5 separate regions of the Homo sapiens genome follow, and regions 1, 2, 3 and 4 are each linked to region 5. The links come from fine-mapping of genetic effects on gene expression. A gene starts in region 5. Each other region holds a variant in brackets. All regions are shown on one strand. Distances are from middle to middle. Region 1 overlaps RPAP3 (RNA polymerase II associated protein 3). Region 2 has its middle 130 kb from the start of RPAP3. Region 3 has its middle 85 kb from the start of RPAP3. Region 4 holds the start of ENDOU (endonuclease, poly(U) specific). Region 5 holds the start of RAPGEF3 (Rap guanine nucleotide exchange factor 3).

Evidence for each region. PIP is the estimated chance that this variant, and not a neighbour inherited with it, causes the effect.
Region 1: its variant is fine-mapped to the expression of RAPGEF3 in whole blood (TOPMed, PIP above 0.99).
Region 2: its variant is fine-mapped to the expression of RAPGEF3 in whole blood (TOPMed, PIP above 0.99).
Region 3: its variant is fine-mapped to the expression of RAPGEF3 in whole blood (TOPMed, PIP above 0.99).
Region 4: its variant is fine-mapped to the expression of RAPGEF3 in whole blood (TOPMed, PIP above 0.99).

Annotation. Positions count from the first base shown.
Region 1 is chr12:47,659,619-47,665,828 of GRCh38, forward strand. RPAP3 (RNA polymerase II associated protein 3) reads right to left here. Exons shown (of 17, transcript NM_024604.3): 17 at 1,631-3,972. The coding sequence ends at 3,887. Among named protein-coding and RNA genes, the nearest start is that of RPAP3, 43 kb to the right of the region's middle. The variant CTG/C (reference allele first, on the strand shown) is at 4,330.
Region 2 is chr12:47,575,338-47,581,748 of GRCh38, forward strand. No RefSeq gene overlaps it. Among named protein-coding and RNA genes, the nearest start is that of RPAP3, 130 kb to the right of the region's middle. The variant A/C (reference allele first, on the strand shown) is at 3,427.
Region 3 is chr12:47,617,634-47,624,044 of GRCh38, forward strand. No RefSeq gene overlaps it. Among named protein-coding and RNA genes, the nearest start is that of RPAP3, 85 kb to the right of the region's middle. The variant AACCCCTGGCCATC/A (reference allele first, on the strand shown) is at 3,710.
Region 4 is chr12:47,720,467-47,726,877 of GRCh38, forward strand. It overlaps ENDOU (endonuclease, poly(U) specific), which reads right to left and starts at 5,024. Exons shown (of 10, transcript NM_001172439.2): 1 at 4,893-5,024; 2 at 287-409. The coding sequence starts at 4,947. The region is part of intron 3 of RPAP3-DT (RPAP3 divergent transcript); the gene reads left to right. RefSeq lists a silencer at 5,539-5,658. The variant A/C (reference allele first, on the strand shown) is at 3,693.
Region 5 is chr12:47,755,417-47,761,827 of GRCh38, forward strand. It overlaps RAPGEF3 (Rap guanine nucleotide exchange factor 3), which reads right to left and starts at 3,464. Exons shown (of 28, transcript NM_001098531.4): 1 at 3,135-3,464; 2 at 2,450-2,662. The coding sequence starts at 3,140. It also overlaps a transcript of SLC48A1 not described here. RefSeq lists enhancers at 192-361, 392-461, 2,675-3,343, 3,344-4,012 and a silencer at 3,284-3,633.

The DNA.
Region 1 (6,210 bases), 96 kb before region 5:
CACCTAAATGCTTTTTAATGTCCAAACCCAAATCACCATCCCTAATCTATTTCAATGACCAAAGGGATCACAAATCCAACAGATCCCAAATTGGACCTTTCTCTCAGCCACTCAACCAAACCTTCCAGTTCCACATATGGTGTCACCCGCTGTGGTTTATATTTTAGTGAATGAAAGCACTGCCCTAGGGGAAAAAAATCTGGGCATGACCATTAATGCTTCCTTCTGCTTCTCAACTTGCTTCCCAGCCCACACAGGATCACCAAATTGTACAAGTTAGGAAGCATTCACATTATGTTCCAGGGATGCCATTCACGCAGACCACAATGTAAAGGGTGCTCCTTGGAGTTAAGCCCTGAATGTGGGGGCCCTGAATCTACTGCCAAATCTTGCCCATTCTACTTCCCAAATATTTCTCCATTCTGGTCACTTCTCTCCATCCTCACGGCTAGTACTCTTGTTCAGGATACCATAATCTCTTGCCTTAGGTACCCCAAGTCCTCTGACAAGTTCCCCTGTCTCTAATGTCCCCAGGCAACTGTTCTTCCCATAGTAGCCAAAGTAAATTTTATAAAATACAAATTTCAGAATCACCCTCCTATATAAACTATCACTAGTTCCACAGTACCCTCAGGATGAAGTTCAAATGTCCTCTAGAATCTCAACCCTTCTGTCTTCACCAGCCTCATTTCTTACCACAATCCAGTTCCCACTCTGTGCTAAAAATTAAACTTAAGTTTTCTCAAACTTGTCTTGTCTTTTGCATCTGCTATTCCTGGTATTTCCCATGATCCCTTAGTATTACCTGTTTAGCATTTATTACGCTGTACCTCTTTATTTGTATCCCCACCATCCCATTCCACCTCCCACTTCGTTGTAAGTTTTGTGAGGAAAGAATCCATGTTTACTTTGTTCATTTTTGTATTTTCAGTGCCTAGCAGTGCCTGGCATTATATGTAGATTCAACAAATATTTGTTAAATTAATTAAATGAATGAATCAAACAAGTTTCATTAACATTAAATTTTTAATGTTTCTTTAAACATAACTCTGATAAAGGTCAAACATTAAGAAAGCATTGTAAAAAGGTAAAATGAGCCTTGGTACTGTGTTCAGAAATGCCTCCTGTTAACAGAGATAATGGATTTAGAGGTTGGAAGTAAAATTTTTTTCAAATGCGTTAGCACAAATTGTTAAAATGGTGAGGACTTGGATATGCCCCATCAATTTATTAAATTGAGTGTAACTAAAACCAGAGTCGGAGGCAGCCAATAAATGACGGGCATGGTGCTTCTGCCAACAATTCAAGAATAATTATGATGTAAATGTTGCTATCAAGTCAAAAGATACAATTAACAGTAAATAACTACATTTCCAGAAAGAAACCACTTGGGAAAATACTGCTTTTATACCTTTAAGGCAATAATATTACTATTATTAATAAAAATGACTGAGCACTATGTGACAGGCATTAATGTGCTAATACTTATAAGTATTAGCCTTTCTAAAAATCTTTGAGGTAGGCATTTACTAATATTCTATTTTATATGAGAGGAAACGGAAGCTTAGAGGTGCTAAGCAGTATGTCCAAATTCACAAGCTAGTTGAGTGCAATAGGTTGTATACGCAGGTTATTTGACCCAAAAATGACTTTATTAACCACTATGCTATTTTGCAATAAGGCAACAATATGACAGCCCCTAAAGACTGTTCTTTATTCTAATCACTTTTAGGAAATGTTGGTAATTGTAATAATAATAGTAACAGTAGCTTACTATACATCCAGCCCTGCTCCAAAAACAAAATGTGTGCATTCATTCAATCTCACTTATACCCATTCTACAGATTTCAAAAACAAAGAATAGAAAAGTAACTTGTCCAAGGCCCTAAAGCCAGATGGAGCCAGAATTCAAACTCAAGAAGTCTGAATCCAGAGCCTCTGGTCTTAAATCACTACATGAAAATGTCTCTGGGGAGAAATCAGGCTAACATCAGAAATTTTTTAAAATTCAAATTCTATAGTAAATCTTGTGATCTGTACTTCTTCAGTTAACAGTCTCTACACAGGTAACACAACATAAAAACTGCAGCTGGAAGTAGTTCAAATAGCTCTACATTAAGAGAAGACAGCACGTTCTGAACTGTTTTGGCCAATTTTTAGCTCTATAATCATGCAGAGAACATTAACCCTCTGAGCCTCCTTTTCTTATGTTAAGAATGACAATAACATTACCTGCCCTGACTACCTTGTAAGTTTCTTCAAAGGATCATACCGTAGTCCATTCGGGTTGCTATAATAAAATATCAAACTGGGTAGCTTACATTAATAAAAACAGAAATTTATTTCTTACAGTTCTGGAGGATGGGGAGTCCAAGATGAAGATGCCAGTAGATTCTGGTCTCTGGTGTCTGGTGAAGGCCCACCTTCTTGTTCGTAGATGGTGCCTTCTTATGTGTCCTTACATGGTGTAATTGGTGAACAAGCTCTCTGGGGCCTCTTTTACAAGGGCCTGCCCTCTTGACCCAATCACTTCCCAAAGGCCCCACCTCCGAAGACCATCGCCTTCAGGGTTAGGATTTCAACATATGAATTTGTGGGGGATATAAACATTCAGATCATAGCAGATAAAAAGCTAAATTCAATTGCCTGTTTATATATCATAATACATTTAGCAATAAACAAAGTTAATAAACTCTATCAAGTGTATTTTAAAGCATTCAAACTATCCAAATTACAAACATATCTCAATAATTTATACCACAATCTGAAGAAATTATCTTTGTAAATAAATTATGATTACTTCTCAAACAATTCATAAGAATAGTAATATGTATAATGGCAATAAAAATTAACCACAATATCGTATAAAATTGTAAACTGAACTGTCTTATTGATGCTGATAACAATTAAAGGATGGTGTCCTAATATTTTTTAACAACTTGATAGTCTCTAAAATTAACTGGTTTTACCAGTGCTTACACCATGCCCAAAAATTTGCTAGGCTGCTACTTTAAACATTTACTTAATATGATTCTTGCGTCAAATTCAATTAAATTTTATAAGTATCAGTTGAGCACCTAACTATGTGCAAACGTCTGTGCTAGGTACTATGCAGAGTACAGGGATGAGCAGAGTTCTAGCCCTACTTTCAAAAGTTTACAAACGCTACACTCACATCCAACAAATACATATGGGCTATATGCTAATTAGTACTTTAAACATTACTAATTTTTACATTTTTACACCTTGCATTAGATTATCTGTCCTTAACTGGTATGTAACATGGATATCTTAAGGGAAAAAACCCTATGGCATTAAAATGTAAGAATACTGTGATACTTCAATTAACCTAGTTTGAAAGTCTAGTTAAAAGTCTTCTTTCTTTCAACATAAATACTAAAAATACATACATACCCTGCAACTAAATAACTTCATGTTAGTGAATTGGCACAATAACATTTAAAAGTTTTATAAAGAAAGGATCTCACTATCTATTTAACTTCCTCTTTACAAAGGTAATTATTCATATGCTAATGAAGCAGCTTTGGCAAGTGGTTACAAAAACTCATGAAAATATAAAAATAATGTTACATTTATGGGTCACTGAAGAATGTATCTAAATTTAACATTTAAAATGACTCATAAAATAAAATGCTGATCCTTACAAATGTATCTCATTGTTTATATTTTTATTTTCAGAAAAACAGAGTTCACTTGAATACAATTCTCACTAGTTAAATCACAATTCACCTTATAGTTAATTAACTTATGTTCAAAGATAGTCCTTTCCTGCTATATAATTTCATTTTCTTAAAAAGCAAAACACTTTCAGTAGAAAAAATTTACATATGAAAGTCAAAAACAATTATTTCAGCAAAAATGGAAATCAACCACCGTATCTTTTCTTGAGTTCTTCGACAGAACTATCCTTCAATCCTGACTTGTCTATGTGATTAAATAATGCACGTGCAACTGAAAAAGAAAAAGAAATTCTCCATTTTAATCTCATTTTTTAAAAACCAAGCAAAATGTAAATTAAAAGGAGCAATCTATTTGTCAAAAACATTTTACATTTTAAAGCAATACATAGGTTTATAAATTCTAATTCAGATATTTAAAAAGCCAATCTGAGAACACAAAATTATATAGCAATCCAACAATGGTTCTTTCAGGAATATTTTGCTTTAGCAGTATAAAATTTGCCCTGCATTCTCAATGATATTAATCTTGCAGATTAAACTTAATTCATTCTGTACTACCTTAAAAATGTTTACCCTATCTGTGTAACAAGTGTATTTTTATTTACTTAATATTTTTATTTCAACTAAA[CTG/C]TTTTTCAAACCTAAATCATTTTATTTTAAAAGAAAACTTTACATCACTACTGTAAATGAAAAACAGCAATGACACTGATGAAATCACACTTGATGGGACAGTTAAATATTTTTATATTACAAAATTAAAACTACTACATGTTAAAAATAAGATCATGGGCCAGGCGTGGTGGTTCACGCCTGTAATCCCAGCACTTTGGGAGGCCGAGGCAGGCGGATCATGAGGTCAGGAGATCGAGACCATCCTGGCTAACACGGTGAAACCCCGTCTCTACTAAAAATACAAAAAAATTAGCCGCGAGTGATGGCGGGCGCCTGTAGTCCCAGCTACTCAGGAGGCTGAGGCAGGAGAATGGCGTGAACCCAGGAGGCGGAGCTTGCAGTGAGCTGAGATCGAGCCACTGCACTCCAGCCTGGGCGACAGAGCGAGACTCCATCTCAAAAAATAAATAAATAAATAAATAAGATTATGAATCGCAAAAAAATCATATTTACTACCACTGATCGGTCGACACTCAACATTAGGAAAACACTGTTTATAGTTCATGCTTCTCAACATTAAAACTGGAGAACTAGCTAACAGTTATTAATGATAATGGCAATAATAAAATATAACAACAGCTAAGTATTTACTGAATACCTGGTTGCATGCCAGAACCATTCTAAGCGCTTTCCATGTTTAACTTAGCAGACAGTGGAAACCCCATCAAGACAGTACTATTGGTCAGCCAGTCTGAAGAGCCCACCTGCATTCTCGGATACCTTGAACTTATCACATTAGAGTAACAGTAAATTCATTCATTCAACACACTGACACTGAGGGGTTATTATGCGCTAGCACTGAGGCCCAGTGAACGAGGTAGACAAAGTTCCTGCTGTCATGGAGCTTTCATTCTATTAGAGAGGGAGATATAATAAACATACACATGAACCACTGTCAGCTAGTAATATATTACGAAGAGAAATAAAGCAGGGTAAGAAGAGAGAGGTTCATGGGGGGTCAGTGAAGAAAGACATCTTTGAAGTGGTGATAGGTGAAAACCAAATGAAGAAGCACACAAGTGAAGATATGTAGGAAGATATTCTACGTTGAGAGAACAGCCAAAGTCCTCGAGGCCAAAATAAGTTTGGCAGTTTGGTAATTTTTTTTTTTTTTTTTTGAGACAGAGTTTCACTCTTGTTGCCCAGGCTGGAGTGCAATGGTGCAATCTCGGCTCACTGCAACCTATGCCTCCTGGATTCAAGCGATTGATTCTCCTGCCTGAGCCTCCCAAGTAGCTGGGATTACAGGTGTCTGCCACCACGCCCAGCTAATTTTTTTCTTTCTTTTTTTTTTTTTGTATTTTTAGTAGAGACAGGGTTGCATCATGTTGGCCAGCCTGGTCTTGAGCTCTTGACTTCAGGTGATCCACCTGCCTCGGCCTCCCAAAGTGCTGCAATTACAGGCGTGAGCCACTGCACCCGCCTGACAGTTTGGTATATTAAAAGCTATATAAAACCACTATAATGGGGCAGAGTGGTTGAAAAAATAGTGGTAAAAGATGAGGTCAAAACAGTAATAAGAAACAGTAACATTTTTCAGGGATTTCAAGGAACATTTCTGGTTAACTAAAGCTAAAACCAAAACTTTTGGTTTAAACCCTCGCTATTAAAATATACATATATATATTTTAATATATATTTTTTTATTTTTATTTAACTATTTATTTGAGACAGAGTCTCACTCTGTTGCCTAGGTTGGAACGCAGTGCCACAATCATGGCTCACTGCAGCCTCAACCTTCCGTGCTGAAACGATTCTCCCACCTCAGCCCCCCTAGTAGCTGGGACTACAGATGCACGCCACTGCAACCAACTCATTTTTGTATTTTTTGTAAAGA
Region 2 (6,411 bases), 180 kb before region 5:
CCATCAGTGTCCCCACGCAGTTGCAGGTTCCTGAACTCCTGAACACCACACACCCAGGAGCTCTGTAGCCAGGGGCTCTGTGACTGCTCCTCTCACACTGGCCTCCAGTGATTCCCCTTCTCACCTCCCCGAGGTCTAGCTGAATGTTTTAGCGAAGGCTTTCTTTCCATGAGCGTCTCTGAATGCCCCCCACCCCCCACCATTCCCAGTCCCACCAGCCCTGCTTCCAGGGCTATCATCACCACCTTCCAGGGACTCATAAGAGGGAGACCACCAGCAGCCTTTGCCTCATATTTACATTATATTTCACAAAGGTTCTCTGGATCTTCCAAGGTGTTGCCCAACTAGCCATAAATGAAGCTAAGATATTGGATTCAAGAGAAGATTTAAGAGTCCTCCAAAGTAATGTGTGCACTTACCACACACCCTTTCTCTCTCATGACACTTCCATTAAGTGGCTTTCCCAGCTGCCCACACATGCCCTCCCTTATGCCCTAGATGCCCCAGATAGACTTTTATCAAACACGTGCAATGCCTTATTGTGAACATTTCTCTTTATATCTGCCTCTCCACCAGACTGTGAGGTAGCAACATTGCCATATTTGTCTCTGAAACCCCAGTACTTAGCATTTTGCCTGGTACTCCCTGGTGAGTATTCAATAAGCACTCAATGAATGAATGAACAAGTTCTCTACCCTACCCTACCCTACCCCTCAAAATGCTTTCCCCACCCAGCCAAATGATGCATAGAATTATAATATTAGACTTTCTGATATGGCATGTCCTTCTGATTGCAGTATGTCTTATTCAAGGACAATGCCTCTGTGGGGAGTAGTGCGGGAAGGCTCCTCTGTTGTCAAATCCTCATGTTGTGGAATGACTTCCTTGTGGCGGGGGAGGCAGATGGGGTTCTTAGGAGAGATAATCACTTGAGGTGCCTCATAAGGGCTGAAGAAAGGGGAAGACACAGAAAGATAGATCAAAAGACTCAAGGAGCTTTTCCTCTGGAACAGCTTTTCTGAGGAGCAGCTCTGGTTGCCATAGCAACGGCTGCAATTTGTGGTACCTCCTTCCAGCTTCCTACCTGCTGGTGAGAAGGAACTGAAAGCCACAACCTCTTAACCCAGCAGGGCATTTTCCTTGCATCCTTTGAAAGCAGGAGCTGGGGTGAGACCCAGGGAGACAGCAGCCTGGGCTGCACCAACAGGAGTGGTGAAGGAAAGAAGCCGAGAGGGGCGGGGGGTAGGGAGGCACAGTGCTGCCAGGAGGTGAAGGCTAAAGTGGGGGCCGAGCAACACAGGAATAAAGGAGTAAGCTGCCACCGTTGGCAAATAATCGCAGCTGGGGCGACAGTTCTCAGAGCTGATTACCTAGAGATCCTCTGGCTTAATTGATTTTATATAACCTCCTGGCTGCAAAATTGGGAGGCTCAAACAATAAGACAATTTTCAAAGGACAGCTGCTTGCTTAAATGGACACTCCACACAGAATTGTTTCCTGGAGCTTTTAATGACTTATTCTTCTCAACTGAGCCAGAAAATACTTTTCTAAAGAAGAAATAGGAAGAATGCCCTATCTGTGAATAGGAGATTGTGCAGGAGGGTGTTGCTACGGTGTGTAATTATTAGTCTGCCTAATCAAATCAGCAGCCTTATTGTAAGATTTGCCCATTTCTGCAGCAGAAATATGATTTGGAAATGCTAACAGACAGTATCATCTTTCTAGGTTCTACTTTCTGTATAGTCTAAGTCTTCAGCATAAATCAACAGTATTTTTTTTGTAAGGTATGAAGAAAGGGGAGAATTAAAGGCAATCAAATTATATTTGATAAATTTATTTATTAATCACTTTTATTGATGAAGACCTAAATAAATTGTGAGTTCAGAAAAAATATTTGGGCTTAGCAAGATTTTCTTTTAAAGAGAATTATTTTTTCTTTCAACACCAGAGGGAAAGCTTATCCAAACAATTCCTAGAGTCGATCATGGTTCGTTGAGGAACAAAACAGCAGAAACATGTAATTTCACAGCAGCTCCCACCAACTACAGCCTCTCATTACCAGCAACAAGCCAAATAATTTACTAAGCAACCCTGCTGCTGGCATTTAGCCTTTGTCTTTCTCACATCTGGTGCTCCAAGTATGATGCATTTAATAAACATGTTTATAAGCCAGTAATTTATTTCTGGCACTATTTTTGCTTCTTTTTACACCAAACTTCATTCGTAGGGAGGGAACATGTTAATTGTCCTATGTTAAGTGACCTTTCTTACTATGTTGTTAGGAGATTTTACAAAGCCTGCAGATGAACGTGACCTTAGAAATCAAGCCTAGTGTAAGCCGTAGGTTTAGATCTTCGCACCACAATAATCAGAAGTGAAGCATCAAGCCAAAGTGGGGTGGGAAGGAGATCCATCTCAAAACATTCCCTCAGGCTTCCCAGAAAGTCAAAACAATGTCGGGAAATTACTCTGATGGATCTCATGACCTCTGGATGATAATGTGTAGGGTCTCATATTACTGCTACTAAGATGAAAAATCAAATAAAGTACATTTGATTTTGGTTTATGAAAATTTTATGTAAAAAACAGGCAGATGGAGATGCCAGATAGTTACAGAACAACCAAAGACTGTTTGATATTTCTTCTAAAAAAGAGATTCATTTTACAAAATTTAAATAGATCTTCTTTGCCGAAGAATGCTCATCCATCCACCCATGTAGCCACAATCGACTCCCTGAGGGACAGAATGCACCAGAGGTTACTTTTCAGAGGACAAGAGGTCAGCTGGTCAAGGGGAAGACAGGCAGATGAGTTCAGTAGCAGAGCATTGTATCAAACACCTTGACCAAGAATAAGCAGCAGCCTAGGGGATGGATAGCCCATTTTCCTCGATGTGATTATTACATATTACATGCCTGTATCAAAACATCTCATGTACCCATAAATATATACACCTACTATGTAGCCACAAAAATTTAAAACAAATTTAAAAAACAAAAAAAAGCAGCAGCCTGACTCTACTCCTAGCTCTGCCACCAATTCTGTCACGTAACCTAAGTCTCTGAGTCTCTGTATCAGGTGGCAATTGCCGTGTAATGAACCACCCCAAAACATAATGGCTTAAAATAATAACTACTTACTATTTCTCACAAATATGTGGCTAGGTGGGTCTGCTGATCTGAGCCAGGCTCAACTGATCTCAGTGGGCCTTGGCCATCCATCTGTGGTCAGCTGATGAGTTGCAAGGGGGCCAGTGGCCTCCGCTGTGACAACATGATTCTACTTCATGCAGTTTATCTCAGCCCCAAGTCGGCTAGTCCTGGATTGTCCTCATAATAGCAGAGAAGCAGCAGCGGGGGTCAGGGGAGGAGGAGAGAGAGAAAAGAGATGGGAGAGGAAAGGAGGGGAGAAGATGAAGAGTGAGGA[A/C]AGTAAGGGAATAAGAGAGAGAAAGATAAGGAAAGAGGGAGAAGAAAATGAGAATGAGAAGAGAGAGAGAAACAGAAAGTGTGAGTTCTTGAGACTTGGGCTCAGAACCGAACTTTGACACATCTACCAAATTCTTCGAGTCTGCCCTTTTCACAGGGTTATCATGCTTATTAAATGAGATGGTTTCTGTGCAGCATTTCATAAATCACGAAGTATCATAAAGCAGATCTAATATAACAAGACGTCACTGACACAGCTGTTTTGGAGCTGTCCTTCACAAAATACCAGATTTAATCTGCTCACTAGAGATGAAGCCAGTAATGACATGTGGGGCAGAGAAGGTCATGTGAGATATTTTATTTATTTATATCCTTTGCCTTGTTCTACAAGGCTTTGAGATAGCTTGACACAAGAATACAAACACAAAAATAACAGTATACTATAAACAAGAACTAGGAAAAATATAATTGGAAGGAGACAATCAAGGCCTAGGCCTAGGAGTGGTAAGGGACTATCCCAAATATGCAAATGTTGCCATAAGGGCAATATCATGACTATACTGGAGTCTTATATTTGCCTCTATATTTCCTAGAAATAAAATAGACCAGGCGTGGTGACTCACGCCTGTAATCCCAGCACATTGGGAGGCTGAGGCAGGTGGATCACAAGGTCAGGAGATCGAGACCATTCTGGCTAACACAGTGAAAACCCGTCTCTACTAAAAATACAAAAAATTAGCTGGGCGTGGTGGCGGGCGCCTGTAGTCCCAGCTACTCGGGAGGCTGAGGCAGGAGAATTGCTTGAACCCAGGAGGTGGAGGTTGCAGTGAGCCGAGATCGCGCCGCTGCACTCCAGCCTGGGTGACAGAGCAATACTCCATCTCAAAATAAATAAATAAATAAAAATAAAAAGAGCTGTTTCCCAAAGGTTGTGCACAAGCTGATCTGGGCTGGTACAAAGCTGGCCAGCACACACCTACCTTCCCAACCATCAGCATAATACCTGCTGAGAAGCTCTTCAGCAGGTGCCAATCCAACGTCCTTCCTGTCCAAGGTGTCACCTCACCTCCTGAGTGCTGGTTATTTCTGGGTATTGCAGTGGGCAGTGCAAGAATCGGTTTGACCTCCGCTGCAAGGTCAGGAGAGCTCAGCCACAGGTCAACAGCAGGGACTGTGTTCAGGCCATGGTAAGAATAACTGATGTTCATGGACGAAGAAGAAGGAAAATAGTATGGATTTCTCCATCCCTGTCAGGAACGTGGTGTTTCCTTTTTAAATAAATTTAAGTTTTAAAAGTAAGTCCATAGAGTTACCAATATTAAGTAGATAAAAGTATAGATAGTATATAGGTGAAGCAAACCTGTGCCCGTATTATGTAGATGCCCAGAGTTTGGGACATCCATTCATGAGCAGCACCGGTTCCCAGTGAACTTCCCAGAATGAGTTAGTAACAAATATTTCTCCAAATGGAGTCAGTACACCACAAGGGCCATGTGAGACTAGTATGCATGAAAAATATTAGAAGTTATCCCTATATTTATATGCAACAGTATGAAAGAAGGTAAACTTCAATACTGCTTACATATTCCAGTTGACACAGAGGCACCCCACCTGCTCAACTTGCAAGATGGTTACCTGCCCAGGTTGCCCCTTGCAGTTCTCTGGGTATCTTGAGGGAAAAGTGGAAGTTCCCTATGCAGAAGGTTGGCACATTTTTGTTCACTGTCACCAAATGGGCACATATTAGATTCAGAAGGGTCTAGTTAAGTGGATGTATGAAATATAACATCCAGTTTTAATGAAATGAGCTCTCATGAATGTAGAGGATTAAAGGTAGTATCAGTAATACAAGCTCAAGCAAACAGAAAGCTTGTCTGGCAGAGCCATACTTCTCCAATTCTTAGAACAGACAAGCTTTTTATCAGCGTCTTAATGAGGAAAACAGTGATCTGATCATATCTGACAGAAAGTCAACCTCAAATCTAATTAACCTCAAATCTGAAATTAACAAAAAGCTATTTAAAATATGGATTTACTTCCACTCTTATTAATTTTGATCCTCGCTTTGAGTGTGTATTTTGCCTATGATATTAGCTAATGAGAGCATGAAGCCATCAAGATTAGCAAGAGATTTTAAAAATGAAGCAGCCAGAATATTCATCATCATAATAGAGTGATATTGTTCTATTAATAAATAAAATAAGAAAAATCATTTATTTCATTTTTATCTCATTTATTTAAATTGCTACTTTATGTATCTTTATAATATAAATAATATACTAATATAATAGCACTGTGTATCATTTATTAATGTATCCATATAGATTGGGAGAGCATATTGACACTTTCCTTTCACTAATGAGGTAGGTAATTTATGCTTAGCATTCCAACAATGGAAGGCTCTAAGCATGTGGGAGTTATTTATATCCTACTGCTCAAGGTTATCACCAAGATCTGATTGCAAAAATTCAAAAAATTGCAACCTCAGGCATGAATGGGTTAAAACAGTTGGGATACTGTTGCTTTAAATAACTAAAAAAATTAGCTGGTTGAATGGAATTATTAAATTTAGGACCGTGACATTTGGGGAACACCCACCACAATAATTATTTTAATTGTAAAATCGTTTATCTAAAACTAATCGTTCTGGTAGTGGTCTCATCACATGATGAACCACCCACAGAGGCCACTTCCAGGCTGTGAAATTAATATTGGTATACAGAAGGAGACTTATTTGCCTATTTTTCCATAGCCAGGAGAAATTAATCAAAGTCAGTTTCAAATTATTAATGTTTAATGTGTAAAAAGGGGGCACAGAACACAGCCCTGATTTATGCCACCAGACAATATTAGCTGCATCATCAAAAGATGTGCCAGTTGATTCCAACTCTCACTGTCGTGTAAAAAGCTGATTTCTCTGAATACCAAAAACTATGAATCCACAAGGAGGTCATTCATGCTGACCCAAAGATGGCTACTGTCATAT
Region 3 (6,411 bases), 140 kb before region 5:
GTCACCGTGTTGTCGGCCCACACAAGATGCTGCCTGTGAAGCCTCGCAGCCCTGATGCTCCAGTGACAGGCTGAACTCACAGGCTTTTGGCAAACTGCTAAAGCTTGCATCCTCTTTTGCAGGGTCTCTGGGAAACTGGCTGCCTCTGAGAGCCTCTGCCTAGGAAATGGGGCAGAGGTTCTCTCTGTTCTCATCACCTCTTACCCTCTCCCCAACCTGGGGACAAGATGGATATTTTTCTTTTTTTTCTAGTCTTTGAGAAATCATACTTCTCTTCAGTTTCTGGCAGAAACTTTTATCCATTCTTCAGAATTTGTTCCTTGTTCCTTTGGGTTTGGACTTTCAAAGATAAAAACCAGAAAGATTTCCACATATATACATCTCTACCACACTCTCTTCCCTGGGGTAAGAAGCACAAGACCAACTAATTGCTTGAATGCAGAAGAGACAGAAGGAAATTCTGGGTGAGAAAAAAATTCATTAGTATCTTAACATATTCCCCTGACACAACACAATATAAGAGTTATACTTTTGTCAACAAATCATATGTTATGGTTTCTCCATTTAATACACTGCTCTATACATTTCTGCAACTAAAATTGATATAATCATCCTACGTAGCCAGACCCGTTTCCTGAAACCAGGCTCATCAGATTACTTCCTAGCTCAAATTCCTCCAGCAGCTCTCCCTTGTCTACAAAATATAGTTTAGTCTCCATGGTTTGGCACATGAAGATGTCCAGTCTGCCCATTCTGTTTTTACCTCCATCTTCCAAAGCTCCTCAGCATGGGCAGTCACAAGCCCACCATATTACCCTGCCTGCAATGCCTTCCTTCTTCCCTTGTTCCTCTCCAAAATTCCCAACTGTTGCCATAAATGTTGACTTCATATCTCCACCATCCCTCCACTACAGCAGCCCATACCAACCCATTTCAGTTCACATCAACTAATTCCTCTGCCAACCACCTTACTCGGTATCCCTTTAGATCTCTAAGAAGGATACATTGCTATTTTAAACATGAAAACATCACATGTGGTAGCAGAGCATAGGTTAATTAATATGTAGAAGTTTCTTTGCTTAGGACTGGAATTGTACCACCTCCATGCAGTAACACTGGTTGTGTCATAATAATGAATGCCTGACCAGGTCCTGAATGGAAAAAAAAAGTGAGAAAGCAAATGCTTTATTAAATGCAAATGTCTGATTGAAAAATAACAGGCCCACTGAGATATGAAAGAAGACTTTAAGAGTGAAAAGGTTCACATCCAGTTCAGCACAACCCTTCAACTTTCAGTTGAAGAAATACCTTCCGCCCTCACCCACACCCACCACCACAAGTTTCCGCCTGTTGTAATGAAAGATGGTACTCCTCACGTGCTATACAATGTGGAAAGCCCACTGCTACGGACTGAATGTTTGTGTCCCGCCAAAATTCATATGTTACCTCCTAATCTGTAATGTGATGGTATTTGGAGGAGATTAGGTCATGAAGGTGGAGCACTCTTGGGCACATGAACGGAATTAGTGCCCAGTAAGCACCTTTGCCCCTGCCACCATGTGAGGACTCACAGAGAAGACGGCTGTCTATGAACCAGACACTGAATCTGCTGGCATCTTGATCCTGGACTTCCAGGCTCCAGAACTGTCAGAAATAAGTTTCTATTGTTTATAAGCTACCCAGTTTATGGTATTTTTGTCCAGTAGCCCAAGCAGATTAAGATACTCACTTGCTAAGAAGCTTATAAAAGCTCATGGGCATAATTAGTGACAATCAATAAATGCATTACATGTGCGAATATGATGTATGAAGCCAAAAAAGAGATACTCTGAGAAAGACAGAGAAGAAGAGGGAAAGGTTTCCAAACTTTCTAGGCTTTCACTCTTCACATTTGCTCCATTGGAGCATCGTCTGTCAGTGAATTCCTCTGAAAACTTTAAGTGGGTAGTTCTTATAGGCGTTCTTATCTATCGCTTTATCCTTGGACCTGTTAAGAGCAAAGCTGCTTTCTCAAAGTAGAGAAAGGGTCTCACCTGAAATACACCATCTTCTTGGGTGGCTGGAGAAAAACTCATATTCAGACCAGAATCTAGAACTGAGGGGAAGGCCCTAGGTGAGAGGCAGAATTAGCATTTTTCCTTGGCCCTGACCTTGAAGAACCTTAAGTGTCCGGGAAATCAGTGCTGACATCTAGGAAACCAGATTCCAGCATCAGGGAAGACAGAAATTGTCCTCCACATGGAGGCAGTGTAGGAACTGGATTGGGGCACTCAGGAGGACACAGAAGATAGGCATAGGTCTGGGAATCCGGTGAGAGAGCTATCCAGGGTGGCATCAGAGACCTGGATCATGTATGCTGAACTTTTCTGCCTCTAATATCTTTATTTTACATTTGCCCCTAGAATTTGGTGAAGTCCTCCTGAAACTGCCAGCTTGTCTAAGCTGGACTGAGGGGAAGCAAAGGAAAGGGCTTATATCCACTCATGGGCCTGTGTTTTTCACAGCCTAATCCCTGTACCCTAGGAGCCAGGCTCAGGGGTGGCAGTGGACATCCTAATATGAGTGCTCCAAGAGAAAACCAAGCCACAATCCTTTGATCCCACCATACTTCCTCACCTGTCAGGTCCCTCCAGCCCTGCAAGAAAGATCTCTACAAAAGCACCCTCAGTTCTCCACCCCCAACCCTACCAACAAGTGTTACTGAAAATAGCAACAGGGTCCAGGACTGTTGATAGCTGGTCTTTCCCAATATCTTCAACACAGTCCATGACTCTGAGCTTCCAGGTTCACTTCTTCCCTCTTGCAACTCTAATTTGCATGTCATTCTCTGTTGGGCATCTATCTACTCATCCAAAAAAGAGCCAGACAAGCATAAACGGCAGAAACTCAATGCTGACTTTGGGACTCTGGCTTCAGAGCCTGTTGGGGAAGTCCCACCATTACTGGTGGACCAGTGCTTGGCATTAAGCCACCATTGGTGTCTTGTTGAACAATTTCCCCGTGGCAGGCAAAAAAAAAAAACAGTAACCCTCAGAGCCATGCAGGTCTGGCTGAGTATGCAGAGCGGGCAGAGCCTGGGGGGACTCAAGACCACAGCAGGAGCCCTGGGGCCTCCCTTTCTGGAGATCTAAGTCTTAACTACTATTCTAAAAATAGGATCTAAAAGCCAGAGGGCTCCCCAGTAGAGATTTAATGTAGACAGAGTGTGCAGAAAAAAGCATGAAATCAGAACTGACAGCAGATGGAAGGGCTAGGATGTTACTTCAAATACATGACCTGGACTCAAAATAGAGAGAAAATGATTCTCCACCACATCAGATTATTAAAGTCACCATCGCATCCCTAGCCACAGGTGCTCACTGCTCTAGGGCTGCTGTCTCCACTGTAATGAAGAGTCTGATTCTCAGGCTATAGCTAAGTGGACAAGAGCTACTCAGGGCAAGGGAAACTTGGGTATGATTGTTCTGGTACTGTGATGCCATTTATTACATTTTATTGTATTCTCATTAAATTCACTCCCAGTAATAATAAAACACAACATATACTGTCATTGACTATGTTGCAAACCCAATGCCAAGTAATTTAGATGAATTATCTCATTTAATCTTCACATCAACCCTGTGAAGTGGGCGCTATAATTATCCCCTTTTTAAAGATTATGAATCTGAAGTTTGGGGACTTTGAGTCATTAGCCCCATTGCTTGACTCA[AACCCCTGGCCATC/A]TGACTCTTAAGTCTAAGCTCTGATGCTATACCACTTCTGTAGACTGTAAGTACAAAGGCAGGAAAAGTGTCATTCATTCATCCATCCAACAAATATTTTGAGCAACTACTATAGACTACTATAAGCTATTCTAAGTGTTAGGAGTACAGTAAGCAGACAACGTTGCTGTTTGTAAGAAGCTAACATTCTGCACATGGGAAAACAGACAAGAAACAAGTGACCCAATCAATGAAAAAGATAAATCAGGTAGTGGTAAATACTAAGATTGCAATAAAATAAGCAGATATGCTGGCTAGAGAATGACTAGGTTCAGGTGTGTGGCTGAGAGGGCGAGTGTGACTTCAACCTCAGTGACTGGGGAAGATCTTCCTTAGGAGATAACATTTAAGCTGAAACCTGCAAGTTAAGAAAGAAAGAGTCATGTGAAGATCTGGGGAAAGAGAATCCCAGGCAAGGGCCTGAGCCATGTTTAAGAAATAGAAAGAGGCTCATGTGGCCGGAGCAAAATGAACAAGGAGGATATTCCACCTGATGCTGGAGATGAGGTTTTATTTTCAGTGTAACCGTAAGCCAATGTTGTCTCCTTTACCACTGAATCTATAGCACTTAGTGATGTGTTCAAGGTATATGTTAATTGTCACTGAATAAAATGTTTGCTGCATGAAGAAATGAAAGAGTGAACAATACCCAGCTTTCAGCTCAAAAGAAAAAGTTACAGAATGATGTACCCTGTAGAGGACTAAGAACCTGATCTAAAGCCCAAGATGCAGAGTCCTTCCTTCCCCCTCTGCTGCACACTGAGTGGGTGGCTAGACTCCCCAGAGATACTGCAGAACTGTGAACAGCAAGTCAAAGTTTATTATGTTACATATAAGGAGTAGAAGATGGTCATGCCATTGCTGTGTGTGTGTGTGTGTGTGTGTGTGTGTCCCTGCTCAAAATCTGCACAATAGCTTCCTTGCTTGGCCGGGTGCATGATCCTTTTCAAACTCTGAAGAACAAAATGTATATAACACATAGGAGGCAATATCCCTGGGGACTGTAGCCCTCATTTCTGGGTGACAAATTCTGAAGAGTCATGCTTGCTACTTCCAAGGGATCCAAGCATGAACAGGAAGGAAACTTGGCAAAGAATCACACCAGCCTTCTCAGGGACAAGGGATGACACGCTTAAGCCAGTCTATACCTAACACAGTTTGTCTGGCTCATGTTTTGCCCTCCTTCATAGTGCTTATGATATGTCAATGTGATAAAAATGAGTTTCTGATGATCTCCAAGCCACAGATTCATGATAGGAAGCAAGCATGCAGGCCATTTTAAATGGTTGCCTGACACTTCCTTATTTTACCAATAATTTTATCAGCCTGTTTAGATAATGCTTCTATCCCTCCAAGTGCCACAGAGAGATAGCACATCGATAAGGTCAAAGAGACAACACCTGGACCAGAGAGACAGGTCTCAGGGCCAAAGTGTGACTGTGAACCTAGGCAACATAGCAAGACCCCAGCACTACCAAAAAAAAAAATTTTTTTTTTAATTAGCCAAGCATTGTGGTGTACATCTGTTGTCCCAGCTATTCTGGAGGCTGAAGCAGGAGGATGGCTTGAACCCAGAAGTTCAAGGATGCAGTGAGCTATGATGGCACCACTGCACTCCACCCTAGGTGACAAAGCAAGACCCTGTTTCTGAAAAAAAGTGTGACTGGGAACTCAATGAACTTTAATTGCCTTATATCTTTTCCATTTTTTCCCTACCATGCTCCCACCTCCACTGGCACTCCAAGTTGGAAGCAGATCTGGCTTTTGAATTAGTTTTACTACAATTAGCAGTGCAACCTCAGTCAAACTACTCAACTTCTATGTGTCTCAGTGAGCCAGATTCTGTAAAATTAAGAGAATAGTGTTGAGAAGATAAAATGCATAAAGCACCAGAGCACCTAACTCACTTCTGGCATCTATTCAGCACTCCTCCTTCCCATCCTTCTCCCCAAATCCAAAGGCCCCACTCCCTTTGTTCTCTAAGGACATTAAATAGCACAGAGAGAAGATACTCACAAAAAATATTTCTCATGAAGGTGTTATTAATAATATTCAATAACATCAATTTTATGTTTCCTTTCCAAGCAATATTTAAAGTTTAATCCACAGCAAAGAATTCCTAGCTAAGGGATTTTATGCCATGTAGTCATATTGGCAAAAAGTAAGAAAGTCTTTACCAAATACAGTACAAGCCAACTGGGGTTATGAATGAGTTTACCATGCCATTATCCCCACTTCCATATGATGCTATCATAGTTCATTCAAATGAAGAGGCTATCATAGTTCATTCAAATGAAGAGGAAAAACCACCTAAAGCTTGGGAAGTGCAAATCTTAGGCAGACCAAACATAATTATTGACTCTTGGAGATAAAAAAAATTCATTAACTCAGAAAAGAAACTCTATTCACAGTTCTTCAGCCAGATTCACATTCATGCTGACTTTAATAAATGTTGTGAGGGGATCTGGCAAGATGGCCGAATAGGAACAGCTCCAGCCTGCAGCTTCCAGCACGACCAATGCAGAAGGTGGGTGATTTCTGCATTTCCAACTGAAATACCCTGTTCATCTCACTGGGCCTGATTAGGCAATGGGTGCAGCCCACGGAGGGCAAGCAGAAGCAAGGTGGGGCATCGCCTCACCCAGGAAGT
Region 4 (6,411 bases), 35 kb before region 5:
CCCTTTTTTAGAATTTAGTACTTAAACTTTCAAGATATTGTTAAAACTGATATTTCAGACAGAAATTCTAGGTAAATGACATCTACTGTATTTTAAGTTGGGGGCATCCTAGAAAACCTGAGAAAAGTGGTGGCCAAATTCCTGACCCTGCCTCTGTCCCTCAGTGCTTTCTGTCCAGACCCTTAGAGCCCCTGTGAGTCCTGAACGCTGCTCTGGCCTGCTGGACACCCAGGCCAGTGGCCCCTTAGACAGGCTGGACATGCCTTCGTCTCACAAGGAGGCTCACCAGTACACAGATGTTCATAGTCTTCACAGCAGTTCCCATGCCAGAGACACCGGCGGTCACACTGGCAGGCAGCGTCCCGGTTAAATTTCTCATTACATCGAGATGCACAGGATTCTATTTTTCCTATGGGCAGTAAAGGTCACCAACTCAGCTCTATGGAGACCCTGTTCTCCCCAGGGTGCCTCCTGCAGGAGGGTTCACAGACCAGGGCAGGAGTGTACCTGGCAGGGAAGGGCATTACTCTCTGCAAAGGAGAAGTACATCCACAGCCTCCCATGCACAACATAAGCCTCCTCCCCACCACCCAACACCCACCAAATATTTCAAGGCTCATCAAAGAGACCAGGATCACAAACCCAAATCCCTATTTGGGTTAGGCCCATAACATAAGCAAGTAAAGAAGCAGGGTATGAGGCAGTAGGAAGAAATGGAGACCGTGACAAACTTGAGAGCAATGCTCCATCTGAAATTTGCAGCTGATGCTCAGCTCTAGCCGATTGTGGCCATGTTGGGATGTGTGCTCAGTGTTGCCAGAGCCTTCCCTTTTTTTTTCAAGATAAATCTTCATTTTTATGTGAAATTTTCCAACCTTGTAACACTTTAAGCACACCAAAGAAAGAGGTCTGTGAACTGGGTGTAGCCCACAGGCCCCCTTCACCTGTCATGTCATGCTGCCCCAGGGATGTCCCCTGCCCCTGACCCTCCGCTGGCTCTTATTCCATCCCTGTTATGTTATTTGCTTCTTTGCTCTTGTCTCCCCTTCTGGTCTTCTCTGCACGCTCTTTCCCCCTGTGTCACATCTTTCTGTTCTTTCCCGTCTTTGGAGTACATTCAGATGAATTTATGCTCAGGGTGGGGAATGAGGCGGGTGCGGGTGAGAATTGGGCTCTGGCATAGCATTCTATTATGTAACCACAGACCACATCCCCCACTGCAGCCAAATGGTTTGCAGAAGCAAGCTTTTGGTCGCAAGGGACATAAGACAAGACATTTTGAAGGAACAGTGGAAACCCACTATCCACTCTGGGCTTTAAGGGTGATAACAGAGTCTTTGTTCGATTTGAGGTTCCTGAGGTTTGGATTTCACGAACGCTGGGTTCAGAGGTCATACTGTGGGTTACAGAGAATGTCAAGATCAGAGTCAGAGTTACCATCAGCATCAGAATTTGTATCAGTGAGGAAACTGAAACCTAATTTGGACCAGGGTTGGGGTTAGTTAGGTTAAGAACTACAGTTAGGATTTGGGCTTGAGTTAAATTAGTTGATAAATTAACAATTTTGTATTGATATTTGGGTAAGGAATAGGAATAGACTTAAGATGACATTCGGGGTTGAGGAATGTGTCAGGATGAGAAAAAGATGAATAATCCCTGTTTTGTTTGGGGGCTTGGTTCTGGTTATGATTCAATACAGGTGTAGTATCTTAATTTAAGCCTGGAGTGGGTTAGAGCTTAAATATTAGAGGTTGGGTTTGGTTACCAGTCCCTAGTATTGGATTCTGGGATTAAGGTTGATACTTTGTCTAATGAGGGACAGCATAGCAGAGAGGTCAAGAACCTAGACTCTGGCGCCAAACTGCTTGAGGCTGGAATTCTGGTTCTACTGCTTTCTAGCTATGTGATCTTGGGCAAGTTATTTGAACTTCTGTGCGTTGGTTTTCGTATCTGTAAAAGTGGGATGATAATGGAGCCTATCTCATAGAATATTTGTAAGAATTAAATGAGTTAATATATGTAAAGCACTTAGGACAGCAAGTGACACATAGTAGTACCATAGAAGTATTTGTTAGGTGAATAAACGGTGGCAATATTTCATGCCCATCTTCCAAGTGACAAGTGTTCAGACTGGCTGGAGCAGTCTTCCCTGTGTTGTGGCCCCGTCGACACACTTAATCTAGCTGACACTCTCCCAGGGTTTCAACAGGGCCATCCCTTGGGCTGGGTTGTCAGCACATCTGTGTTGCTGGTTTCCTGGCTGACTTCATCACTACAGGTCTGTATTCTTTACATCAGAGAGGCATTGGGTCAAGGTTAACCCGGGTCCTCAGACAACTTCACATTGTCAGGCCTCCAAGGTGGGCAGGAAGGCAGGTTTCCAGTCCCTAAAAGAGACCAGGCCCAAGGCCACTTGTTCCTTCAAGCCGGCAGGAACTCCTCTTGAATGTTAAATGATGCTCCCTTGGAGCCTGAATGCAAAGACCTTAAGGAGAAATTTTCAGCCCATCAGCTCCCTGCTCAGTCAGCCTGGCAGTACACCCAGAATCCAAAGGGAGAGAATTCAGGCAAATCAGGGCAATGTTTTTAATGGGCCAAATCAGCAGAGTCCAGGGAAAGAATTCACTTCATTCCAGCAGCTGGCACCAGTTGAGAAGGGTTGCAAGCGAGCAGTCAGCTGGACGTGCAGGAGAGCACCCCCGCCGGCCCAAGCTGAGTGGGCTTTTTCATCTCTGCTCAAGAACTTTGTCTCCAGCAAGAGCCCCATGCCAGCACTTTCTCACATTTCTCTGTGCACTTAGTCTGCTTCAAGGTGACCTTGGGATTTGACAGTGGAGTGCAGGGGTGGGAGGAACTTTTCCTCATAGGCACTTTGCTGTGACATTCTGGGGACACTCTGATGAGTAACTAGTCACCCTAACAACTCACTCCAGCATCCCCACACTGCACCATTAACACCAACACTCTGAGTAAGCCTTGCTCCCCAAGCCAGGTGCCTGAATCACTGCTGTAGTAACCTGTGCCTCTTGTTCCTCTGCCTCACCTCTCTGACTCTCTGCCTTTCTTCATCTGAGCCTTTCCTCTCTCGGGTTCAGATTCTCCCTCCATTCCCCCAAGAAATGCTCAATTTCTCTGCACTTTCTAAGACTTCAATATGCCAGAACAGCCACTCCCTATCCATACTGGCCATCAAGGAAGCTTGGTCCCAAGCCTGGGTGGACACAGTGTCCCTGTACACTGGTGCTCAGCCCCTCTGATGACTGGGACATCCTACACATCTGTACCGTTAGAAGGCCCCAGATGCTGTTTCCATGGAGACCTAGTCAACCAAGAAGCCTCACCCCTTGGACTAGCTTCCTGCCTCCATTCACAACCAAAAAAATCAACCAAGGTTCTCCACAGACATCCAGCTCATAAAGGAGGACCTGAGGCTGTCAGTGATTCCCCATGTGATTCATATTCTTGCCTCTCAGTTCTGAGATGTTGGGATAGTATCAACAAGTGCAGAGCCTCTTCCCTGCCACCTTAGGAAGCCTCATACACTTGACCTCACTTCCCCATCGATCCCACAGCCAAAGCAGATACTGCCCTCCGACCTAGCAGCAAGAGCTCCACCTGCACTTCTAAAGCCACTGCTACCTCTGCCCCCCAGGGACCAAATATCCAGAGTTGCTCTCCTTCCCTAAGGCTGG[A/C]ATATGCCAAGCCCGCTGGCCACCCCTACACATTAAGCCCCCAAGTTCCACCTTCCTCCCAACCAACAGGGCTGAGGCTGGTGGCTCCCAGGCCCACCCTCATGCTCTCCCACTGCCTCTCCACCCACTAGGGCCCAGGCAGAGCTGGTTTCTGGTAAGATGCACTATCTCATCCATGGTTGGGAGGCACAACTTCCTCTTCCAGGGGTTTTCCACTTAGAAATCCCATAAGGGTCTCCTTTCCACAACCCAGTTGGAAATGACCCCAAGCGGAAGTTTCTCCCAAGAAAATTTATAGTCATAATCATAGCGAATTTCCAGTTCACTGAGATCTCACTTTGCACCAGGTGCTTCTCATACATTATTTCATTTAATCCTTTCCACAGTCCTACACAGGAGCAACCCAGTGGAAGGATTCTTTCTCCTGTGGGCAGAGGAGGATTCTCCCCACACTCCTCAGCTCAGCCCCTCCCTTGGCACTCCTTCCCACCCACCCACTAGCTACCAATTAACCCATCAGCACCAGCATTTTGCACAGTTACTAAACAGGAACATGGTCCTGTTCCTCTGCCAGTCCCATCCCCTGGACCTCTCATAACTGTGGGCCAGGTCCCTTCTGTATTCTTCAATTCTCCTAACACTGCAACAGAGATCCATTCCTCTGACCCCTGTACAGCCCCAGATAGGACGAGGCCCACCTCCTGGTCAAAGGTCCTTTCAGTTTCCTCCTAAGCCTGCCCACCTCCTAAGGCTCTACCCAAAGTAACATCACACCCTAAACAACCTCACCTGTCACCAGGCAGTGGAAGGAGTGACCAAGGGCAGCCAGGCCACTCAGACCCCATGGACACCAGCCCTAGCTTTATTCCTTACAGTGGCCCCAGACAACAAAATCTTGGGGAGATCAAAAGTCAGGCTGGACTAAGGGATATTTGGGGCTGATCCTCCAAGGTGTCAAGAAGGGAATTCCATGAAATCAGACCATCAGCCCTGCAACTCTCTCCACATAGTCCAGTCCATTCCGGGACCAACGCCTGCACCCTCAGACAAGGACAACCCAAAAGTGCTCTGCGGCTTTAGGACAGAGCTCACCCTCCCTTGTCCCACGGCCCTGCCCTCTACCAAGTTCTCCAACTCTCTGCTTCTTTAGGCAAGATCCCGCCCCACCAGCAATCCCATGCCCGCCAGATAGTGACTTACCAGCCCAGGCCAGGCCACACAGCACGGCCAATACCAGGGAGATGCAGGCCCTCATGGTGCCCAGTTGGAGGCCAAAAAGGGAGTGGCTGTTGGACTTTCACTAGAGTCAGATGAATGTCACAGCTCTCAGACGAGCCTTATTCCTCAAGCTGATCCTTTTAAAGACACCAGGACTTGTGGAGCTGGTGTCTCCAGATCCTTTCAGGAAGAAAAAGGGGAGGGAGGGACCCTAGATGGATAGGAGGTGGGGCCCTACAGCTGTTTGAAGCCTGAGGGAAGGTGACTAAGAAGGTAGGTAATGCCAGATGTTGAGAACAGGTAATGCTAGCTGTTTGCAGCTTAAAAAATAGGTCATGCAGGCAGGCACACCAAGATGGGTCCAGTTTGGAGGGTTCTTTGTCCAAATTAGGGACACCCATGGGCTGATCTTTGGGTGATCCCCACCAAACAGACACCTACTTCCAAGTCTCAGACCTGACTTTCCAAGGGGCCACAGGTTGGATTCATCTTCAAATTCCTGGAGCTTAGCATGACACTGGCACACAGTAAGGTGATTGGTCCAAATTTGACAAACAGTAAGTGCCCAAGCAAGGGTTGGGGTCATTGGACAGAGAGATAGAGGATGTGTCGGTCAGAACCAGTGCTATTCTTATGACCACCAAGCCCAGCATAGCTAAATCAGCCACATGTCGAGCGCATGGCTAAATCACTCTAAAATATTATGCAAATGACTCTTACTGAGTCAGCCTCTGGGGTTTAAACGTTTCAGATTCCTTATGAGGCAGGGGAGGGGCAAGAGGCCTCTTAAAGGCAGCCGAAGGCCCACTCTTCTTCCCCTGGGAGCCCAGGGTTTCACTCCCTTCACCCCAACTTACACTCCTCTCCTCAGGAACTCCTCCCCAGTGAGGTTCTTTTGTTTCCAAGTCCAAAAGAAGGGGAGCAGCTCCCCGTGACTGTCCAGTTTTCCCCGATAATAAAGGTAAAATCTGCCAAGTATGATGCCCTTGCCAGAAAGAGCACTGCATGGGGATTCTCAACCCTCTCAGGAAAGAAAACTATCATATAAAAAGGCAAAATTGGTGAACAGTGGAGGCCACTCTATCAGTGATTTTTTTCTGGAGGTTGGGAGTGGAGCACGTCTTCATCCAGTGTGCTTTAACAGGAGAAGTTTCTTCCTCTCGCTGGTCTTCAGCTTTCTCATCTGAAATGATGGGGTTGGATCTGACAATCCCTTCCAGGTTCTCAGACTTTAATCTCGAGTTTTCCTGCCCATGCGCCAGGTTGAACAGTTGCTGGTGGGTTAAAGAGAATCCCCCAGCCTGTTGCTGTGTAGAGAGGAGTCCAAACATAGGGACTCAGGGGTAGAGAGAAGGACAAGCCTAGGGCAAGCAAACTTTGCAAGGGGCTCACACAGGAAGTGCAATGTATGTATATATTTTGAGATGGAATCTCTCTCTCTGTCGCCCAGGCTGGAGTGCAGCAGTGTGATCTCGGCTCACTGCAACCTCCATCTCCCCAG
Region 5 (6,411 bases):
CGTTCTCGGAGTTACAAAACAGGGCCACTTCCCCAAGAACAGTCACACAAAGAGAATCATCTCAGACTTCCCTGAGCTAGTAGAACCCACCACAGGTCACTCTGATCTTGCCCCTGCCCCCGGACATCAGACAAGATCTCACCTCCCCCTCTTATTTTCCAAAGATGTTCTTCCATCCCATTCCAGTGTCACTTTTGCAATAGCTGTTAAGTCTTATCTTAGTCTGTATCTAACTGCAAGCCCTCCTACTGTAACCCGCTTTCATTTTCTCTTGTCCTGGTCTAGGTAGGAACAGAAAGAGCTGTCTTCAGACTTCTTCTCTGGGAGGTTGATGGGTTTTCCCCTTGGCTTTCGAAGAGGGAGGTCTGGCCTCAATAACTGGCAGTGCTGTCTTCCTGGGACTCGGGCTCCACCCCTTCACCATGGGCGTGCATGCTCACAGCTGGCACTCATTCCCTCACGGAAGCCTTCCCTGGGCTAAAGGCATCATCAAGAGGTAAGAAGTACAGCTTCACAGGTACCCAGAGCCTCTCAAATATAGGCATGATGGAATGAAACCTCCCCACCCCAGTCCCCAAAGTTGGTCATCAGAAGAGGGAGTGGCCGCCTGCCTCTAAACACTAAAAATCTAAGTTCCCTCTAGTCACCAACGCCCACCTGGCACGGAAAGGCCTTGTTTTGGTGCCTTTGACCCCATTTACACTCCAGCAACCTTTACCCCCACCTTTCTGGCCTTCCCCTGCACACCAGCCCTTCATTTCTGGGGGCTGTGGAGAGTCAGGAGACAGCTTGGTGGCCTCCTCCACTCCCTCCCAGACTTCAGGTCCCAGGAGATCCTCCAGTGACCTATTGTCCTGGCACCTGACCTTCTCCCTACCCCCTACCTTGCTTCCACAAGCTGGGAAGGGGACAGGAAATGCACAAATAATTATAGCCCAAGAGGGAAGGAGGGAGGGAGGGTTCCAGCCCACTGGCTCCAGGCAATAGCTACAGCCAGTGACCCGGAGAGCGGAGAGCCGGAGAGCCAGAGGGGTAGCGGAGGAGGACCCAGGCTCATGATAAGGAAGACCCTAGTAGAGAACAGCTCTACCAGGACTGACATGTGGACTCTCCTCTCAATTCTGATTGCAAAGAGGAGCCCCTCATCTTGGTAGGTCTCAGTTTTTTCAACTCAGCCTCACTGTAAATGGCAGTTGGGCAAGGTAGGGGGAAGGAGGGAGAGGGTGGTGGTTATTCCACTCAAAAGGACTTGCCAATAAGAAGTGAACTCTCGGCTAGGCGCAATGGCTCATGCTTGTAATCCCAGTGCTTTGGGAGGGCGAGGTGGGCAGATCACGAGGTCAAGCGATCAAGACCATCCTGGCCAATATGGTGAAACCCCATCTCTACTAAAAATACAAAAATTAGCTGGGCGTGGTGGCGCACACCTGTAGCCCCAGCTACTCAGGAAGCTGAGGCAGGAGAATCACTTGAACCTGGGAGGCAGAGGCTGTAGTGAGCCAAGATTGCTTCACTGCACTCCAGCCTGGTGACAGAGGAAGACTCTGGTTAAAAAAAAAAAAAAGAAAGAAAAGAAAAAAGAAATGAACTCTCCCGGCCAAGCGCAGTGGGTCACGCCTGTAATACCAGCACTTTGGGAGGCCAAGGCAGGTGGATTGCTTGGGCCTAGGAGTTCAAGACCTACCTAGGCAACATAGCGAAACCTGGGTGGACACACGCAGTGGAGACATAACTGAATCTCAAGCTAAGCTACTCTATTTAGTCTGGATGGTTGGGGATAGCTTCTCTGCTGATTTGGATAGTACAGCCATTATCTTGCCTCCCAAATCCCACCATTCTTTCCCCTCCCTGCTCTCTCCTTCATTCTTTCAGGTCCAGAGATGTTTCTCACTAGCAAAGGGCACTTTGGTGATCTCAGATTCTCCAAATGTCTCAGAATCCTTCCCTGAGCCCCCCAAAGGCAGGTACCAAGCAGTGTCCACATGATCACCTCACCCTAAGACCAAAACGCAGAATTAGCACAGTTCAGTAACTCACTAAAGGAGAATGTTGCCACGGTGATGCACCCAGAACTGTAACCAAGCTTACCTCACTCCAACCCATTGACCCGGCCCCCATACCTCCCACCTCCACCTGGAAAGAACACACAAGTACCTAACTCAATGCCGGCTCACTGAGGTGACAGATAAACAACAAATCCCTTTCCCCTTCCCCCCATGCCCAAACAGAGACATTTGGGCAGAACACACACACAGACACACACACGTTGCAGCTGTGTGAGCCACCCACGCACACTGCAGACAAGCTTCCTGACCCAGTGTCCACGGCAGCTGTACCACTGTACACCCCCAGAGCAAGCTGGGCCACCAGCAGCATGCCAAGCCATGATCTAGGCCCCCCTCTAGCTCTGGTACTGGCCCTGGCACCTGGGCAGGTGAAAGGTACTCACCCAGCGCAGCCCCTGGATGCAGCTCGGACGCTGGTGCTCCAGCAGCAGCTGGTAGGAGCAGCTTCGGGGCCGGTGCATCCTTCTCAACACCATGTTGAGTAGTGTCCCCTCCGGCACCACGTCAGGGAGGGCTCCCACCCGCGGTGCTCCCAGAGCTGGGCTATCCTCCACAGCCAGGCCCACCTGCCAGCAGCTCTCACCTGGCCAGCCCACCTGTGACACGGGGAGGAAAGTGGACAGCCATGGGACACGACTGGGGCGGCTGGGCCACAGTACAACTGCCCCAGGCAGAACTACTTCCTTAGAGTCCTCTGGACTGGTCAGGCGGAGGTGCTGCAACCCTGCCAGGAGCTGGGGGGAGGAACAGGAAGACCTTCACTGGGGCCTGCCGGTCTGGCGCACTTAGGGGTCTCCAGCTGGCTCTTGGAAAAGATCAGGCCCTTCTTAGTCCTCTTTGGAATTCTGTCCCATCTCACTGCCCATGCCCCTGCAGGGATCTCCACTACCTCCCAGTATGAAGCTATAGATTCACTAGGTCTCCCAGAAATGCAGCTTCGGCTTAAACCCTTCTCCTCTCCTCCTCAGCCCTGACTAACCCTCCCTCTCCCACCCAAACTCCCCACCGTGTCAGCTTCCTCTCCCGCCCTCTCCTGCTCCTCCTCAACCCTGACCCCACCTTACCCACCTTCATGTTTCTTTTCAAGCTCGCACAGCCGTGCAGGCTCTAGCAAAAGGCTGGGGGGTCCCCAGCGACCCCCATCAGCTTTGATAAGGGGATCCGGAGGGTGCCAGTGGGTAAGTCCAGGTACAGTGAACTGGGCCAGTGCCTAGCTGGACTGGCTGCCAGGGCAGCAGGATGCAGGGCTCGGTGGAGAGGCTCCTCTTGGGTGAGTAGAGGGGTGGGGGCGTGGTGGGGGGACGCCACCCAGCCACCGGCGACAGGGAGCCCCGAGCCTGCGCCTTCGTCTCAGACGAAGGAGCCAGCTGGCACCGGGCGCTGAAGCAAGGCTGCGCTGGCACCGGTCCGGGCGGGAGCTGTCACACCCCCTGCGCTGCCCGCCCCCTTCCCCTCCCCAGGACTGGCGGAGGGGGCGGGGTGGAGGCGCCCTGCCTTACGGTAGAGGAATGCGTAGGGGAAGGGGGCCGGCACTGGCAGGCTTTGGAGTCCGCACCCGGGGGTACCAGAGTGGACATCCGCCTGAGCCCAGAGTATCCCCAGGGGGCAGGAGCGGCCCCGAAGTGTGTGGAGGAGGCCGCAACGGCCGGGGTGTCAGGGATCCGGCGGTGAGTGGCTGCACTGGCCGCCACGTGGCCGGGAGGAGAAATGCAAACAAGGAAACCGGGGAGAGCGGGGAGGGGGTGAGTCACTGCGGCCTCACCCGGGAGGGAAATCCGGGCTGGGGCCGCTTCCCGGCTGGGGGTGTCTGCCTCCTGTTTCGGTTCAGGGTCTCCAGCCGCCCGGGGGAGGGAATAGGCGGCTTTCCCGCGGGGAATCCCGCTGCCTTGCCTCCCACAGTTCCGTTCCCAGACCCACGCCCCACTGCCCCCTGCCCCAGCACACACACACCGGGAGCAGTTGAGGAAACTGAGGCTGGAGAGGAAGGACTGCTCTCCAGAACGGGTAGGGGCCCTAAGAGGAGATTGGGGTTGTGGCAGAGCTTCCAGGGGAGCAGAAGGTGTTCGAGTACCACGCCCCCTACCGCGCGCTCCCTGGTGGCCGGGTAGGTTGAGGCGGAGACCGGGCATTCCAGCGCCCTGCTAGGCAGGCTTGCTACCGAGGCTCCACGCCTCCCTGGGCCTCAGTTTCCACCACTGTGCAAATGGCCCAGCGCGGGCCTCTTCGCCCCACTCCTGAGAGGGTGGAGAGACAGTGGCCGGGGACAGCGACCCGTAATTCAGGACGATAATGAGGGTTTGGAAGGAGGTGAACGCCCCACCCCCAGCTTTTTAGGACTTTTTGCCCCTTCTCTTCCCTTTTCCCTTTGCTGTTGAGCCAGCCCAGACTGGGAAGAAGTATCTCTAAAAAGCCTATACCCCAATTTTGGGATGCCAAGCCCGCATCCTCCACCATGATTATTTTCTTGAAAGTGAGGAGAAGACTGGGAAGAGGTAGCTCTAAGAAGCCTATACTCCCAATTTTGGGATGCCAAGCCCCCATCCTCCACCAATTATTATTTTCTTGAAAGTGGGGAGAGAAATTTTAATTGTGATTAAAATCCCATTTTTAATGTATACATGTATAAAAAATGTTTCCCAGAAGCTTACTAAAATGCAGGCTCCGTCCCCAGCAATTCATATTCAATCCTATTGGCATGAAATGGAAAATCTGTATTTGGAACAAACACCCCAGGTCATCTGCTGTGTCCACACATTAAGAAACGCTGGTGGAGTTTTAAATGCCTCTCCGGGGAAGGAGGAAAGCCTGAGAATGAATCTGACCTCAGACCCAAATCCATTCAACGGAGTTCTGGTAATTTGGAAGAAGGAAGAGCAACCTGGAAACTGACAGGAAAGGATGACAAGTTGGGAGTCACAGGTATGCATGGGGAAGAGTTAGGGGGATGGAGTCATGAGTTTCGGGTTGCTGGGGCCAGTGCCCTGGCCTAGAAGTTCTTGCAGGAAGGCTTCCTGAGACTGGCAGTTGGGTCACAAAGGGGTCCCCTATTTCCTATTCTTGCTGCCCTTACTCTGGGCAGGTGGAAGATGCTGGGGAGTGAGGCAGGACACTTGTATACATTTCAGCAGAGCTACAAAATCTAATCATGTGCGGGCACTCTTTCAAGTGCTTTCCATGTGTTTAATCCCTGCCACGATCCTGTGAGGTATGTACTTCTGTTATCCTCACGTCACAGATGGGGAAACTGAGGCTCAGGGATATTAAGGAAATTGCCAAAGTCACACAGCTAGTAAATGGTGGAGCTGGGGCATGAATCCAGGTTGTCTGTCTCCACGTACTCACCATGGTATACTGCGTATACTCTGTATGTATTCTATTCTTCTAATGTAGACTAGACTGCCTAGGAGAGTCTACTCAAAAAAGGAAAATTGAGGCCGGGTGCGATGGCTCACGCCTGTAATCCCAACACCTTGGGAGGCTGAGGTGGGGGTGAATCATGAGGTCAGGAGTTCAAGACTAGCCTGACCAACATGGTGAAACCCTGTCTCTACTAAAAATACAAAAATTAGCCAGGCGTGGTGGCGTGCGCCTGGAATCCCAGCTACTCAGGAGGCTGAGGCAGGAGAATTCTTTCAACCCGGGAGGCGAAGGTTGCAGTGAGTCAAGATCATGCCACTGAACTCCAGCCTGGGCGACAGAGCGAAACTCCATCTCAAAAAAAAAAAAAAAAGGCAGGGGGGAAATCGAATATGTTTGTGTTGAGGTGTGGGGGAGCCTCAGGGAGCCAAGGATCACTCAAATCGGTGAAAATGAAACTGTCCCAACCCACTCCCCCACCTATGTTCCCCTTCAACACTACTCTTGCCTTTCTTTTTTCCATTTCTTTTTCATTCCCCCTCTCTGGGGAGATTGAGAAGAGGACCTGGGGTGATTACCTATTGGCTCCTAGCCTGGGGAGATCATAGGGAGTAGATCTTTTATGTGTCCCATTTCTAGCTTGTCCTACCTCTAACAGGCAAGGCCCCCAGCCTGCCATCAAAGCAGATGACGGGGCAGGTTTTTGCCTTCTCAGGATCCCTGGATGGGGACCCGACAGTAGAATTACTGCTCAGCAGATATTTGATCAAGGCTGAGGCCTAGAAGGGGCAGAGGACTGGGAATGTGTCTGAGGAACACATGCAAGCAAGATGGTAACAATCATGCCATGTCCTGGTACCGCCTCCACCCTCCTCTGACTGTCATTAAATGCTTGGCAGGTGTGTTAAGACAGATAAATAATAATAAGAATAGTCAACATGCACCAGGCCCTGTTCTTGATACTTTGTATATATTCACTGACTGAATT